Homo sapiens: one gene and its partners. The protein of the gene in region 3 interacts with the protein of the main gene of each other region in a pairwise test. Each region holds a gene or a part of one and is shown on either strand. Other genes may lie near its edges.

Region 1 (3,838 bases), on a different chromosome or scaffold from region 3:
CTTCCAGTTCAGGGTCTCAATGGCTGGAGCCTTTCTTGGCAATTCAGAGTCCAAGTTGGGAACCAGCCCTGAACTGGACGCCATCCCAGCACAGGGTGCTCTCACCTACACCCACGCTCACAGACTGGGCCGCGTAGACACATCCATTCATGTGCATCTTTGGGATATGGGAGGAAACTGGAGTACTTGGAGAAGACCCATAAAGATGGGAGAATGAGCCAGCTTCACACAGACAGTGACCTCAGCTGAGACTTTTTGTTTTTTCTTCTCATCAACATTATAACAAAACAAAGTTGAATGAAACGTCTTTCGAGGACCTGCTATAGACTAAAATTTTAAAACCCTGTCCCATATATGAACGAACAATTAGAAAATACAGTAGAAGAAAAGAGCCTATTTACAACCACAGGGAAAAGTTTAACAGAAATCCCTTAAAAGAAATGTATATAGGAGATCTGATCAAGAAAATAAACTACATGAAAAGGACAGGAACTAAACAGTCCTCTGTGTCTGCATTTGCGGGTAGAAAATATTCAGGGAGCCGGGTGCGGTGGCTCATGCCTGTAATCCCAGCACTTTGGGAGGCTGAGGCGGGCGGATCACGTGAGGCCAGGAGTTCAAGAGCAGCCTGGCCAACGTGGTGAAACCCTGTCTCTATTAAAAATACAAAAAATTAGCCGGGCATGGCGGCGCTTGCCTATAATCCCAGTTACTCAGGAGGCTGAGGCAGGAGAATCTCTTGAACCCAGGAGATGGAGGTTGCAGTGAGCTGACATCATGCTATTGCACTCTAGCCTGGGCAACAGAGTGAGACCCTGTCTCAAAAAAAAAAAAATACTTGGGGGAAACAATAAAAATAACCATAGAAAATATAAGTTAATATAATTATATAGTATTCACACTTTTAAGTATTATAAATAATATAGAGATGATTTATACGGGAAGATGTGCATAGGTTATATGCAAATACTACACCATTTTATATCAGGTACTTGAGCATCCTGGGATTTGAGTATCTATGGGGGTCCTAGAACCAATCTCCCTCAGGTACCGAGGGACTATACTATACCTTGTTCTTGAACGAGATGATTTGACATTTTAAATAGATGTTCCCCTAGATTAATCTGTAAATATAATACATTTCCAACCAGAATGCTAACACATTAATTTTTTTTTTTAACGATCTGGAAAAAATAAAAATACATAGGAAAATCTGAAAAAAAAAAAAAAAAAAAAGACAGTAGGGTGACTCACATTAATGTTTATTTAAAATATATTGTAAAGCTTCTGTAATTAAAATGGAATGGTACAGTTGCAGACCAGTAGAAAAGAATAAAGTCAGCTGGGCACAGTATCTCACGCCTGTAATCCCAAGACTTTGGGAGGCCGAGGCAGGCAGATCACTTGAGCTCCGGAGTTCAAGACCAGCCTGGGCAACATGGTGAAACTCCATCTCTACAAAAAAACTAGCTGGGCAGGATCGATTGAGCCCAGAAGGTCGAGTCTGCAGTGAGCTTATGATGGTGCCACTGCACTCTGGCCAGGGAACAAAGCAAGACTGTTTCAAAAAGAAAAGAATAAAGTCCACAATATCTGTGGGAAATGAAGGAGGCTCTATAGCCTGCTTGTTAAGAGCCTAAGTTCTGGAGTCATACTGGGTTTGAACTGCTTCTCTCCTTGTCATTAGCTCTGGGACCTTAAACAAGTTAACTTGCCAAGCTTCCTCTTCTCCAGCTGTAAACTGGGGGTGAAAATAAAATTTGTATCTGGGTTCTGGAGCTACCAAGTGAGGTGGTGCACAGTACACCACCATGTTCCATGTTTCATGGTAAATATTGGATAGATGCTAGTTATAAATGGCAGCAGTATAGTGTAGTAAAGGTAGCTTGTCCAATTAGCTGAGAAAAGATAGATAGTTGATAATTATTGTTTGGAAGAATTTAAAGGTTTTAAACAAGAAGTTAAACCATAAAAATACTATATGAAAGCAAGGCAGAGTAGGGAAGGCCTTTGTAAATATATCACAAAATCCAGAAGCCACGTATAGGAAAACATTGATAGATTTGATGACATGAAATTTAAAACTTTTGTATAACCAAAATATGCCCTTTAAGAGATCTACAGATAAAAGGAATTTTGGAGAAATTTTTTTTTTTTTTTTTTTTTTTTTTTTTTTTTTTGATATGGAGTAGCCCTCCGTTGCCCAGGCTGGAGTGCAGTGGCGCAATCTCGGCTCACTGCAAGCTCCGCCTCCCAGGTTCATGCCATTCTCCTGCCTCAGCCTCCCAAGTAGCTGGGACTACAGGCACCCGCCACCACACTGGGCTAATCGTTTTTTTGTATTTTTAGTAGAGACGGGGTTTCACCGTGTTAGCCAGGATGGTCTCGATCTCTTGACCTCGTGATCCGCCTGCCTCGGCCTCCCAAAGTGCTGGGATTATAGGCGTGAGCCACTGCACCCGGCCAAAAAATTTTAATCTCATATATGAAAGCTAGTCTGCTTAGTATCTTACAAAGCAGTGAGAGAAAAAGATGTGCTACTGAGTAATAAAATGATCAAAGGCAAAGAGTACCTACAGTCTTTTATTTATATAAAGTCAAAGAACAAGCAAAATTAAGTCAAAAATTGACTGCCATGAGGCAAGGTAGTTGATTGGAAAAGAGCATGAGTAAACTTTCTGGAGTGAGAAATGTTCTGTATCTTGGGGTGGTTATAGGGGCGTATACAATTATCAGAGCTTGTTAATCTGAACACTTAAGATCTCTGCATTTTGTTGAGTGCTAATTACACTTCAATTTAAAAATTGGTAAAAGTACTCCAGGACATCAATAAATTTAAATTTGGGAGTACACACAGTGGCTCATGGCTATAATCCCAATACTTTGGGAGGCTGAGGCAGGAGGGTCCTTTGATCCCAGGAGTTTGAGACCGGGTCTGGGCAACATAGTGAGACACCTGTCTCTGCAATAAATTTTTAAAATTTTAAGAAATTTGCTGGGCATGATGGCACACACCTGTAGTACCGGCTATTAGGGAGACTGAGGCAAGAAGATGACTTGAGCCCAGGAGGTCAAGATTGCAGTGAGCTGTGATCTCTCTCGCCACTGCACTCCAGCCTGGGTGACAGAATGAGACCCTGTCTCCAAAAAAAAGACGAGGAAATGTAAGTTAAAATAAGACGCTAATTTTTAATATCTATTGTCATTATAAACAATAAATTTAATAATATCCAGTGGTAAAAGGAGTTAGAGAAATGAGTGTAAATTGGCATGGACTTTTCAAATGGATTTTAGATAAATTTATCTGTTGACTCTAAATTCCATGTCCAGTGCTTTTTCCTGGTGTTAGATTCTCACACACAAACAAAGAAGTGTTGAGAGATGTTCACTGTATCATACTTAAAACAACTTATACTGCTACAAAAAGAAGGTAAATTAAATTGCAAATCATTTTTGTATGATGTGCAGCCATTAAAAGGGATGAAGTTAATAGAGCTGTATGAACTATTATGGAAAACTTTCCTATGTAAAGAAAAACACATTACATAAATAAGATTCCGCTTAAGTAATAATAATGTATGCATAGAAAGTTCCTTAAGGAATATTTAAGAAATGGTGAACACTGATTTTGAAATTTTTCTTTCTTCCTTCATTTCTTTTCTTTTTTTAGGAAAATGTCTGATGAATTTTCGGTAAGTTGATCAGTTTATCTGTGATAAGTTTTTCATCTCTTAAGAAAAACAACATGGTCCTAACTGGGCTACGTAAATCTTTTCACTTAAAAGAGATGCTTTAACCAGGCATGGTGGTGTGCACCTGTAGTCCTAGCTACTTGGGA
Region 2 (3,838 bases), on a different chromosome or scaffold from region 3:
CACAGTGGACAGCGTCCAGCCTTCATGGAAGCGAGAGCCAACACTCAGGGCGCTCTAGGTTACATCCTAGCACTCAGTAGTCACTTCGTCTTGACATCTAACTTTCACAACAACCCTAAGGCAGATTATCTGATCATTCCCATTTTTCAGATGACTAAAAAAAAAAAATCGAGGCACAGCAATCTGTAAGAGCTTGATGAAAGGGACAGGAAGGGGCAGAGGCAGATGGTCTGACTCCAGAGACCATACCCAGGTTAGGACTGGAATCATAGTCCCATCACCATGGGAGAACATAGTCGGTGCCTGGGCAGGGGTGCTTGGGGCTGGGGAACCACAGCTGGGCTGCCTGGCATCCTCCATGGGAACTCGTGGGTTATCTTCTCCCTCCCTGTCAAATCCTAAACCCAAGGGGAGGACAAATAGGTCCCTGGGGTCTGGGCTTTCAAACCATCAAGGAAGACAAGAGTTCTGCTGCAGCTCTGGGACAGCAGCGGCCAAGTGGCCAGGCACATGCAAAGTCTGGCCAGCTAAGAGCCCTTGTTCTTCGCCCTCCCCAACCTTAAAGGGCTTACCTGAGCGTGGAGGGCGGCGGCAGCGGCAGTGGCAGTTGGGTAGGTGAACGCAGCATGGGAGATGGCTGGGGTCAGCTCTGTGGTGTACAAAGGGTAGGGGGCCCAGGCCTCTGGGGATGCAGGGATCAGAGCAGCCCCCATCAGGTCATCTACAACAGGAGACAATGGCCTCCATCATCAGAACACTCGCCTCCCCTTCCAAACGGAGAAGGGGACCCAGCACTATGGTTGAGCCATATGCCCCACACTGAGGCCAGACCACCCCCAACCACAGAGGACCCCGAGACCAGGCAAGGAAGCCACGTTAAATCGGCCTGTCATGGTGTGCATCCTGCCTGCTTTAAGACAGGCCTCAGCTCGTCTCAAATGAGAAATTAAAGAAGGTTGCAGGGAAGCTGGAAGCCCTGGCAGCTCAGAAATTCTAGGCAGGCTGCAGGGGAGGGAGGAAAACCAGGTGTTTCAAAAATGGGTGGCCGTGGACACAAAAAGCCTCCTGGAAAAGGGGCTTCCCTCTGCAAGAGCCTGCAAGTCTGCCCTGAATGCAACTCCATGAGGGCCTGCCAGCTCAGAGTGCCACTCACAGGGGTCCCGTGCGATGAAGTGTGCTCCTAGGGCGGGGTGCACGTTGCTGGGATTTGGAGTTGCCATTAGCTTGCTCTTGGCCATCTTGGTGTTGGCTTTGGCAAACTCTAGCCTCAGAGTCTGTGGATTTTCGGGATCAAAGCGAATACCCTACATGGGTAGAGAAAAGAAGAGAAAGGCTTACTCCGGGGGACCCAGAGTGTTAATGGCAGAGAGTAGAGAAGGGCGCCATAAACAAGCTCGCCTCGAAGACCTGCCCACACGGTGGCTGAGGCAGAGGAAAGGCAGCTCAGGCCTTGAGTAATGGCCTTTGGCACAGACAGTGTCGCCAAGGACTCTGCCCAGGGATGGCCGGGAAATAAGATACATCTGCACACCCACTGCCTAAGAGGGCTGTGAGTCAGAGAAGACCTGTTCTCCACCTACTCACGTTCAGCGCATTCTTGGCCGCTTCTGCTCCTGCACGGCTGTCAAAGATCACAAAACCAACAGGCTAGTAGGAAAAAGAGAGAACACCCTTATATCTCTCCTAGCATTCCACCTCTCCCTCCAAAATAACAACAAAAAAAGAGTATCATCTATGTGGAAACAGTATTTGCCCTGCTGATGAGAATACAAAAGGAAAAAAAGCCCCCCAAAACTCCAGCCCACATCCTCCCTGTTCACTGGAACAGCAGTTTAACATGCACCAAAAGTCAAGTCTCCCTCCCCAGGAATATCCTGTGGGAAATGATGCCAACAGAGCTTAATTCCACTGAATTAAACGTCGCCCTTTTAGTAAAAGTATTGTTTTTAATGCATGCAGATAACTAAAAGTAAGTCCCAGTGTTTTCCCCAGCAAGAAAGGGGACACCAATGTATCAAGGGCATGGGAAGACTCCGGTTCTATCAAGGAGCAATAGGTTGAAAACTGCTCCAACTTCATTTTCCCAAGGATCAGTCTAGACCCCAAATAGCCCCCAAAGGCTAGCGGGCCCTGGCCTCCTTGTATTAAAAGCTAGAGCTCAATCGTGCCATTGCACTCCAGCCTGGGCAACAAGAGCAAAACTCCATCTCAAAAAAAAAAAAAGCTAGAGCTCAGCTAACTGCTTTACTGTCCTCAGCCAGCGGGGCTCCCAGATTCCTAAGAAACAGACAGGGAGGACCAGGAGCTGGCTGGGCTCAGATGGCCAGTGAAGAGACAGTGGGACCTACAGAGGCTGCTCTGTCAGAAACAGGACAACAGGGAGCGCAAGTCTGTACCGCCAGATGCCTCTAGATTAGGGAAGGGTTAACGGGCCCTTGTTTGAAGCTCAGCAGCCGGTCTGGGCTGGGAGGAAGAAAACCCTAGGAGAGAAATTACCTGTCTTGCAGTGAGCTTGATCAGGGACCCTTCATACCCCTGCGGAGAGAGGTGGCTGTTACCGTGGAAGGTCAGAAGCGTATGTTGTGCTAGCCCAGCGCTGCCACCTCATCAGCCCCCGCGTTCCCCTGAGTCATTCTCACACCCTTCTCCCTGTCAACATCAACCCACCCTGACCTCCGCCACTGCCAAACGTCCACCGCCCTGCGTTCTGAATCACGCGGTCTAGCACATAGGGTGGGCATCACGCGGCAGCACTCATCACTTCAGGCAGAAATTCCCATTTGCTCCACTAACTAGTAACCCGAGAGCACAGACCTTACCTTTTAAGTTTTCTCATCTGCAAACTGAAAAGGCTACACTGAATCTCAAAGATTCTTTATATAACCACATATATTTAAAGATTCTTACTGTTAGCTGGGCATCATGGCTCACGTCTGTAATCCCAGCACTTTGGGAGGCCGAGGCGGGCAGATCACAAGGTCAAGAGATCCAGACCATCATGGCCAATATGGTGAAACCCCATCTCTACTAAAAATACAAAAACTAGCCAGGCATGGTGGAGGGTGCCTGTAGTCCCAGCTACTCGGGAGGCAGAGGCAGGAGAATCGCCTGAACCCAGGAGGCGGAGGTTGCAGTGAGCCGCACGCCACTGCACTCCAGCCTGGGCAACTGAGTGAGACTCTGTCTCAAAACAAAACAAACAAAAAGGACAAGCGCCGTGGCTCACACCTGTAATCCCAGCACTTTGGGAGGCCGGGGCGGGCGGATCACGAGGTCAGGAGTTCAAGACCAGCCTGACCAACATGGTGAAACCCCATCTCTACTGAAAACACAAATATTAGCCGGGCATAATGGCGCATGCCTGTAATCCTAGCTACTTGGGAGGCTGAGGCAGGAGAATTGCTTGAACCCAGGAGGCAGCGGTTGCAGTGAGCCGAGATCAAGCCACTGCACTCTAGCCTGGGCGGCAGAGCAAGACTCGTCTCGAGGAAAAAAAAAAAAAGATTCTTACTGTCTCCATTTAACTGGCGAGGAAACAGAGGCTCAGAAGGCAGCATGTGAATTCGCAGAACCAGGACACGGGCTGGACCTGCCCCCACAGCTTCTGCCACGCCTTCCCGCATCATCCTGCTGCCCTGCCCGACCCGAGATTCACTCCCGCTGCTTCTCCAGGGTCCCAGGCTCTACCCAGGGGGCGGCTGGGTCCTGACTCACCTTGAACGGCCGGAAGAGCAAGTAGAGTTCTCTGGGTTTAATGTCCACAGGGAGGCCGCTGACAAACAGTGTCCGGACCTGGAGACAGAGACCAGTGATCAGGGCCAGGCTGCCCAAGACGGAC
Region 3 (3,838 bases):
TAGAATATTAGAAAGGGAAACTGTTGTTCCTATTAATCTTCAAATTTGAGCATTTAGTTTAGAAAGCACAGGCTATTTGATTAGGTTGCATGTTTATTACATGTTTTTGTCCTACTGCTTTTTTCTAACAGGTAAAGAAGCATTAGGGAGAGTTCAGGAATGGTTGTAGTTAATTAGGGCTAACTGGAATTTTATTTTAAAAATGCTCACAATACAGTGTGTGTGGTTCCTTTTAGTTTTTATTTTGAGGGTGGCTCTTACTTCCCTCATTTAGCTGTGCTTCTTTTCACAGGGATGCCCGGGTAGTTAAAGACATGGCAACTGGAAAATCCAAAGGCTATGGTTTTGTATCTTTTTATAACAAACTGGTACGTTCTTCCATCTCAATTTATATTTTTTAATACTAAATTTAGTCATTAGTTACTTAATGTATTGAATCTGAAACTTGAATATACTTGAATGTTAACTACAAACACAACTTTTATGTAATGTTATGTATGTTTTAATAATAGAGTATAATTTCATTCCTCTTTCATAAACTCGAAAATAAATAGCTAGAAAAAGAATGATTATACTATAAGGAAGATTATTAAAATTGTGTTTGTACATTGGTAAAGGTCAGATGGATTTAGAAGTAAAGCCCAAGTCTAGGACAGATGAGCTAATCTGAGAATTTAGAGGTTAGGTAAATTATATTCAGTTTTAACCATGAAAATCTCAGTTTTAACTCTACCTTTTAAATTATTATTCATACTCTTATATAACTGGGATGTGAATGACTACAACAAATTATGTAAATAAAAATTTAAGCAATTCATCTTGATTTTTGCATATATTCTTTGTAAAAGGGGTACCAAAGTAAGCATTTGCATTAACTGTAACATTAAATAATAAAGTGGGCTTTGATTTTAAAGCAGTTTCAATAACTTAAATCAATGTTTTGTTTTGTTTTGTTTTGTTTTTTTGAGATAGAGTCTCGCTCTGTTGCCCAGGCTGGAGTCCAGTGGTGCCATCTCAGCCCACTGCAACCTCCACCTCCCGGGTTCAAGCGATCGCGCTGCCTCAGCCTCCTGAGTAGCTGGGATTACAAGCATGTGCCACCACACCCAGCTCATTTTTATATTTTTGGTAGAGACATGGTTTCACTTGGGTTCGCCAGGCTAGTCTCAAACTTCTGATCTCAAGTGATCCTCCTGCCTTGGCCTCCCAAAGTGCTGGGATTACAGGTCATCTACATTTTATTGAAGTGGTAAGATAAAGGGCCAGAGTATTCTGTTTTTGCTTAGATTGAATCTCAAGTTCAAATCGTTTTCTAATTGGTAATAGTTCAGTTTCGTTTTGTTTAGGATATTTAGTAAATTCATCTACTGATTTGTATGGAACCAGCAGCGCCGATATTTTATTTCATCTTACAGAGTCTTATTTATCACTCTTTTCTTTGTGATTGTGCTTTCTTTTTTATCCATAGGATGCAGAAAATGCGATTGTGCATATGGGCGGTCAGTGGTTGGGTGGTCGTCAAATCCGAACCAATTGGGCCACTCGTAAACCACCTGCACCTAAAAGTACACAAGAAAGTAAGATATGTCCACTGTGTGTGTTAAAATTATATTCTTCACAAAATCATGTATCATGTATTCATCTAGTCTCAATTTCTAATTTATTTATGTAAGAGACAGGGTCTTGCTCTGTTGCCCAGGCTGGAGTGCGGTGGCATGATCTTAGCTCACTGTAGCCTGAAACTCCTGGGTATAAGTGATCCTTTCACCTCAGCCTCCTGAGTAACTGAGACTACAGGGACATGCCACCATGCCCAGCTAATTTGTAATTTTTTTATAGAGACAGGGTCTGGTTACGTTGTCCAGGCTGACGTAGTATTTAATTAGTGTTGCAAGACTCTAATTATTTCATTTTATATTTCATTATCTGAAAATAATTGGGCTGTGGTATAAGTATTTTTGGAGCTGTGAATCACCTGATTTTATAGATCAAGTCTGTGTCAAATCATAGCATCAAGAAAAATTATGTTTTCTCCTCCCATTGAGGCATATCTTTTTTTTTTTTTTTTTTTTTTTTTTGAGGTGGAGTCTCGCTCTGTCACCCAGGCTGGAGTACAGTGGTGCGATCTCAGTTCACTGCAACCTCCGCCTCGCAGGTTCAAGCGATTCTCCTGCCTCAGCCTCCTGAGTGGCTGGAATTACAGGCGTGTGCCACCACACCCAGCCAATTTTTGTATTTTTAGTAGAGACAGGGTTTCACCGTGTTGGTCAGGCTGGTCTCGAACTCGTGACCTCGTGATCCACCTGCCTCAGCCTCCCAAAGTGCTGGGATTACAGGCGTGAGCCACCGTGCCCTGCCTTAATTTTTGTATTTTTAGTAGAGACAGGATTTCGTCATGTTGGCCAGGCTGGTCTCGAACTCCTGACCTCAGGTGATCTGCCCACCTCAGCCTCCCAAAGTGCTGGGTGCCCGGCCTGAGGCATATCTTAATAGTATATAGTAATTAACAGAAGAGTTTCATAGTACAATATAACAGTCAACGTTTTTGTTTTGTTTCTGCATACAGACAACACTAAGCAGTTGAGATTTGAAGATGTAGTAAACCAGTCAAGTCCAAAAAATTGTACTGTGTACTGTGGAGGAATTGCGTCTGGGTTAACAGGTACAATGTTTGGTTTTCTAATCACCTCTGAGGAGCTTCATCACTGTTCATATGAATTTCATGATACACATCAGCCATGTTTTATTTGTATGTTTTGTTTTATAGATCAGCTTATGAGACAGACATTCTCACCATTTGGACAAATTATGGAAATAAGAGTTTTCCCAGAAAAGGGCTATTCATTTGTCAGGTAACACTCTACTTGAAATATCATTATTACTCTTATATTTGATTCATTCCTTTCACTTATGTTCTCCAGGGTATCAGTGTTTGTTATTTTAGTGCTTCTTTGCAGTATAGAAGTTTAAGCTACCTACCTAATGTACTTTAGAAAAAAAATACCAACTTGCAGGTGTAAACTGATGAGTTTCCATGTTATTTATTGTGTTAGGTTCTTAAAAAATAAAAGACAAAACCATATCATTTTTCTTTCTTAGATTTTCAACCCATGAAAGTGCAGCCCATGCCATTGTTTCGGTGAACGGTACTACGATTGAAGGACATGTGGTTAAATGCTATTGGGGTAAAGAATCTCCTGATATGACTAAAAACTTCCAACAGGTAATTCGATTTTTCATAGCATTCTTTAAGGTTTCCATCTTACATGTCACATAAAAGCTTTGGAAACTCTGTAAAATGAACAATAAAATAAAGCATATAGCTACTTTCAGTTGATTGTATTTCAAAATTGATTATTTGCGGTATTAACTGAATCTTAATACTTTCTTTTCACAGGTGTCACCACCCCAATAAACTTAGACAATGATAAATAACAGAGTCCTATTCACATAAGGGTGCTTACTTAGTTTTTCTCTTCCTTGTCTCCCACTCTTTCTTCATATACGGTGTTTCTTATGTGTTCCCTAAAACAATACTTTGCTTTTTCCTAGGTTGACTATAGTCAATGGGGCCAATGGAGCCAAGTGTATGGAAACCCACAACAGTATGGACAGTATATGGCAAATGGGTGGCAAGTACCGCCTTATGGAGTATACGGGCAACCATGGAATCAACAAGGATTTGGAGTAGAGTAAGTTGTTTGGGTTTTTCCAGTATAGAAACGTATGGTTCTGACAAAATAAATAAAAGTGTGTTTTCCTAGGGAGAATCTATTTTAATTATATACATTGAGCTATTTGGCATTATGAGCATTATAGAAACTAATCTAACAAAATA
Region 4 (3,838 bases), on a different chromosome or scaffold from region 3:
GTGAGTTGTCACATTTGGATCTGCAATTCACTTCAAGTTATATTTTGCATATAGTATGAGGTAGGGCTAATTTTTTCCCCTTGCAGATACCCAACTGCCCCGCATCATGAACTAGGGGAAAAAAAGTCCTTTCCTCAGTGAAGTGCAGTGGTACCTCGATCACACATCAAGTAATTATACAAGTGTAGCTGTACCTAGACTCTTCATCCTGTCCCCTTGGTCTGTCTTCCTACCCTTCTGCCAACTGTATATCATCCTGGTTGGTTGCTGCAGGTTTTTTTTTTTTTTTTGCACATGGACGTGGTGGCATGTGCCTGTGATCCAGCTACTTGGGAGGCTGAGGCAGAAGATCACTTGAACTTGAGAGGCAGAGGTTGCAGTGAGCCGAGATTGCACGACTGCATTCCAGCCTGGGGAGACAGATTGACTGAGACTCCCTCCCGAAAAAAAACAAAAGAAAACAAAACAAAACAAAAAAGAGACAAGGTCTCACTCTGTTACCCAGGCTGGAGTGCAGTGACAAAACCACTGTTCACTGCAGCCTTGACCTCCAGTTCTCAAGCGATCCTCCCAGCTCAGCCTCCTGAGCAGCTGGGACTACAGGAATGAGTCACCACGCCCAGTTTTCTATTTTATTTTTTGTAGAGATGAGGTCTTGCTATTTTATAGAGGCTGGTCTTGAACTCCTGACCTAAAGCAATCCTCCTATCTTGGCCTCCCAAAGTGCTGGGATTACAGGCATGAGCCATTGGGCCTGGCCTGGTTGCTGGAGCTTCCCCTGGTCATGCAGGTCCTGGTGCTTTATTCTCCTCGCCTGGCTTGGCCTTGTCTTTCCACACATTTAGAAAGAGCCAATCAGTGTCCAGTGTTTACCGAAATTCCTGGTGGGATTTTGATTGCAATCACGTTGAATCTTCAATTAATTTGGATGGAACTGACCTCTTGACAATACTGAGTCTTCCTATCCATTGCTGAGTCTCTGATTTCTCCCAGCTACATTCTGTGATTTCAGTGTAGTCGTTCTGCAAACCTTTTGTTGGATTTACCCCTCAGTGCTACTTTTCAATGTGAAGTCTACTGGTCTGTTACTGGCATATAAAAATAAAACTGGGGGCCAGCCATGGTGGCTCATGCATGTAATCCTAGCACTTTGGGAGGCTGAGACAGTGAGTTTGAGACTAGCCTGGGTGATATGGCTAAGCCCCGTCTCTACAAAAAATGCAAAAGTTAGCTGGGTGGAGTGGCACGGACTGACAGTTCCAGCTGCTAGGGAGGCTGAGGCGTATCACTTGAGCCTGGGAGGCGGAGGTTGTAGTGAGCTGTGATGGCGCCACTGCACTCCAACCTGGGTGACAGTGAGACCCTGTCTCAAAACATAATATGAATAAATAAATAAAACTAATTTTTTTCCATATTGCCTTTATATCCAGCGATCTTTCTAAATTTAAGTTCACTTATTAATCCTAACAGTTGCTTAGTAGACACTTGGATTTTCTACATGCACAATGAGTTACAAGACACAGGCGACAAAATCAAGGCCACGGAGAGAGCGAAACCAAGTCATAGCCATGAAGAAAGACCTTGAGAAACAGTCACAAGGAGGGAACAAGAGTTTCGAAAGGAGATAGCATCATCTAGGTGCTCAATACCCCCCAAAAGAGAGAGAGAAACACATCTCTATAAAGAAATGGAAAGGAGGGGTCTGAAGCCCCAAGGGGAGAACTCTCCCCACCCTGTCCCAAAGCCAGTCCATGTGGCTGAGGAAGGTCTGGCAGTGGGAGGGTTGGTCTCCGGGACCTGGCTTACCGGGACAGGCCCCTGGACAGCCCCCACCACGGGGGTGGCTCCCCCGCCTTGCACAGCCTTCTTGGTGGCCGGGGTCTCCTGGCTCTTGGGCTTCCTCTTCTCCCGCTTGCGGTCCCGCTCCACGAAGGTGCCTTTCATCTTGGCAATGATATCTGAGTCGGTCTTGGCATACTGGATACGCTACCAAACAGAGAGCAGAACGGGTTAAGAGCGTGGATTCAGAGCCCAATTGCCAAGATTCAAAATTGGACCTTTATCAGGGGCCAGGTGCTGCGGCTCATGCCTGTAATCCCAGCCCTTTGGGAGGCTAAAGCGAGCAGATCACTTGAGGCCAGGAGGTGGAGACCAGCTTGGCCAACATGGCAAAACCCCATTTCTTTGTTTCTTTTCTTTTTTTTTTTTTTTTGAGACATTGTCTTGCTCTGTCACCCAGGCTAGAGTGCAGTGATGAGATCTCAGCTGACTGCAACCTCTGCCTCCCGGGTTCAAGCAATTCTGCCTCAGCCTCCCTACTAGCTGGGATTACAGGCGCCCACCACCACGCCTGGCTAATTTTTGTGCTTTTAGTAGAGACAGGGTTTCACCATGTTGGCCAGGCTGGTCTCGAACTCCTGACCTCAGGTGATCCACCCACCTCGGCCTCCGAAAGTGCTGGGATTACAGGCATGAGCCACTGCGCCTGGCCAGGAAACCCCATTTCTACCAAAAATACAAAAATTAGCTGGGCATGGTGGTGCGCACCTGTAGTCCCAGCTACTCAAGAGGCTGAGGCAGAAGAATCGCTTGAACCCAGGAGGCGAAGGTTGCAGTCAGCTGAGATGGCACCACTGCACTCCAGCCCAGGCAACAGAGCAAAAAACAAAAAACAAAAAACAAACAAACAAAAAAAAATTCAGACCTTATCAGGAGCTTACTGAGAAACACAGAAATATCTTGGCCTTAACTTCCTTGTCTGAAAAATGGGGATTATGATACTTCCCACTTCAAAGGACTGTTGTGAGGACTAAATGAGTTAAAGTGCTTGGAACAGTACCTGACACACAGTAAGCAAGTGTTCAGTAGAAAGGCTGTTGGTATTTTTAAGGGAAGCTGGAACAGCAATAAACATCAGGCCAAAGGACCGAGGAGACAATGCTAGGAGAGGAGTGCAGTGCAGGGGGATTTCCTGTCACACAAGAATACTTCAGTCTTCCAGGTTCAATCTCACTCACTTAGCTGTTTAAGGAGAACCTGCCAGATGCCAGGCGCCATTCAAGGCTCTGGGAATAAAGCAATGAACAAAATAGACAAAAACCCCTCTTTCATGGTGCTTATTCAGTAGGGGAAGGTATGTTAAAGATTCTTAGTGTGGCACAGTAGCTCACGCCTGTAATCCTAGCACTTTGGGAGGCTGAGGCAGGCAGATCACTTGAGCTCAGGAGTTTGAGACCAGCCTGGGCAACATGGCGAAACCCCGTCTCTACTAAAAATAAAAAAATCAGCCAGGTATGGTGGCACGTGCCTGTAATCCCAGCTACTCAGGAGGCTGAGGCAGGAGAATCACTTGAACCCGGGAGGTGGAGGTTGCAGTGAGCCAAGATTGCACCACTGCACTCCAGCCTGGGCAACAGAGGAAGATTCTGTCTCAAAATAATTTATTTATTTATTTATTTATTTATTTATTTTTTCTGAGACAGAGTCTCACTCTGTTGCCTAGGCTGGAGTGCAGTGGCAGGATCTCGGCTCACTGCAATCTCTGCCTCCCGGGTTCAAGCAATTCTCCTTCCTCAGCCACAGGAGTAGCTGGGACTACAGGTGCATGCTGCCACACCGAGCTAATTTTTGTATTTTAGTAGAGACAGGGTTTCACGGTGTTGCCCAGGCTGGCTGCAAACTCCTGAGCTCAGGTAATCCACCTGCCTCGGCCTCCCAAAGTGCCAGGATTACAGACGTGAGCCACCGCCCTCGGCCAAAGAAAAGATTTTTAAATGAGGCAAGGTGCAGTGGGAGCCTGGTCCAGCCTCACCTTGGCAAATGAACCGTAATATCCCCT

The links.
Region 1: the proteins of TIAL1 (region 3) and MAPK1IP1L interact in binary tests that used the Homo sapiens proteins (3 or more experiments, as listed by UniProt).
Region 2: the proteins of TIAL1 (region 3) and RBPMS2 interact in binary tests that used the Homo sapiens proteins (3 or more experiments, as listed by UniProt).
Region 4: the proteins of TIAL1 (region 3) and SNRPA interact in binary tests that used the Homo sapiens proteins (3 or more experiments, as listed by UniProt).

What each region holds. Positions count from the first base shown.
Region 1 is NC_000014.9:55,058,010-55,061,847, forward strand, and holds part of MAPK1IP1L (MAPK-interacting and spindle-stabilizing protein-like), read left to right. Parts: intron 1-3,145; exon of another isoform or gene 3,146-3,162; coding exon of another isoform or gene 3,163-3,164; intron 3,165-3,670; coding exon of another isoform or gene 3,671-3,674; coding exon 3,675-3,692; intron 3,693-3,838.
Region 2 is NC_000015.10:64,747,847-64,751,684, forward strand, and holds part of RBPMS2 (RNA-binding protein with multiple splicing 2), read right to left. Parts: intron 3,793-3,838; coding exon 3,715-3,792; intron 2,536-3,714; coding exon 2,497-2,535; intron 1,648-2,496; coding exon 1,585-1,647; intron 1,305-1,584; coding exon 1,154-1,304; intron 722-1,153; coding exon 573-721; intron 1-572.
Region 3 is NC_000010.11:119,576,465-119,580,302, reverse strand, and holds part of TIAL1 (nucleolysin TIAR), read left to right. Parts: intron 1-292; coding exon 293-368; intron 369-1,468; coding exon 1,469-1,577; intron 1,578-2,566; coding exon 2,567-2,662; intron 2,663-2,767; coding exon 2,768-2,852; intron 2,853-3,099; coding exon 3,100-3,223; exon of another isoform or gene 3,224-3,397; coding exon of another isoform or gene 3,398-3,415; exon of another isoform or gene 3,416-3,552; coding exon 3,553-3,692; intron 3,693-3,838. UniProt on the Homo sapiens protein: RNA-binding protein involved in alternative pre-RNA splicing and in cytoplasmic stress granules formation. Shows a preference for uridine-rich RNAs.
Region 4 is NC_000019.10:40,757,579-40,761,416, reverse strand, and holds part of SNRPA (U1 small nuclear ribonucleoprotein A), read right to left. Parts: intron 1,987-3,838; coding exon 1,807-1,986; intron 1-1,806. UniProt on the Homo sapiens protein: Component of the spliceosomal U1 snRNP, which is essential for recognition of the pre-mRNA 5' splice-site and the subsequent assembly of the spliceosome. U1 snRNP is the first snRNP to interact with pre-mRNA.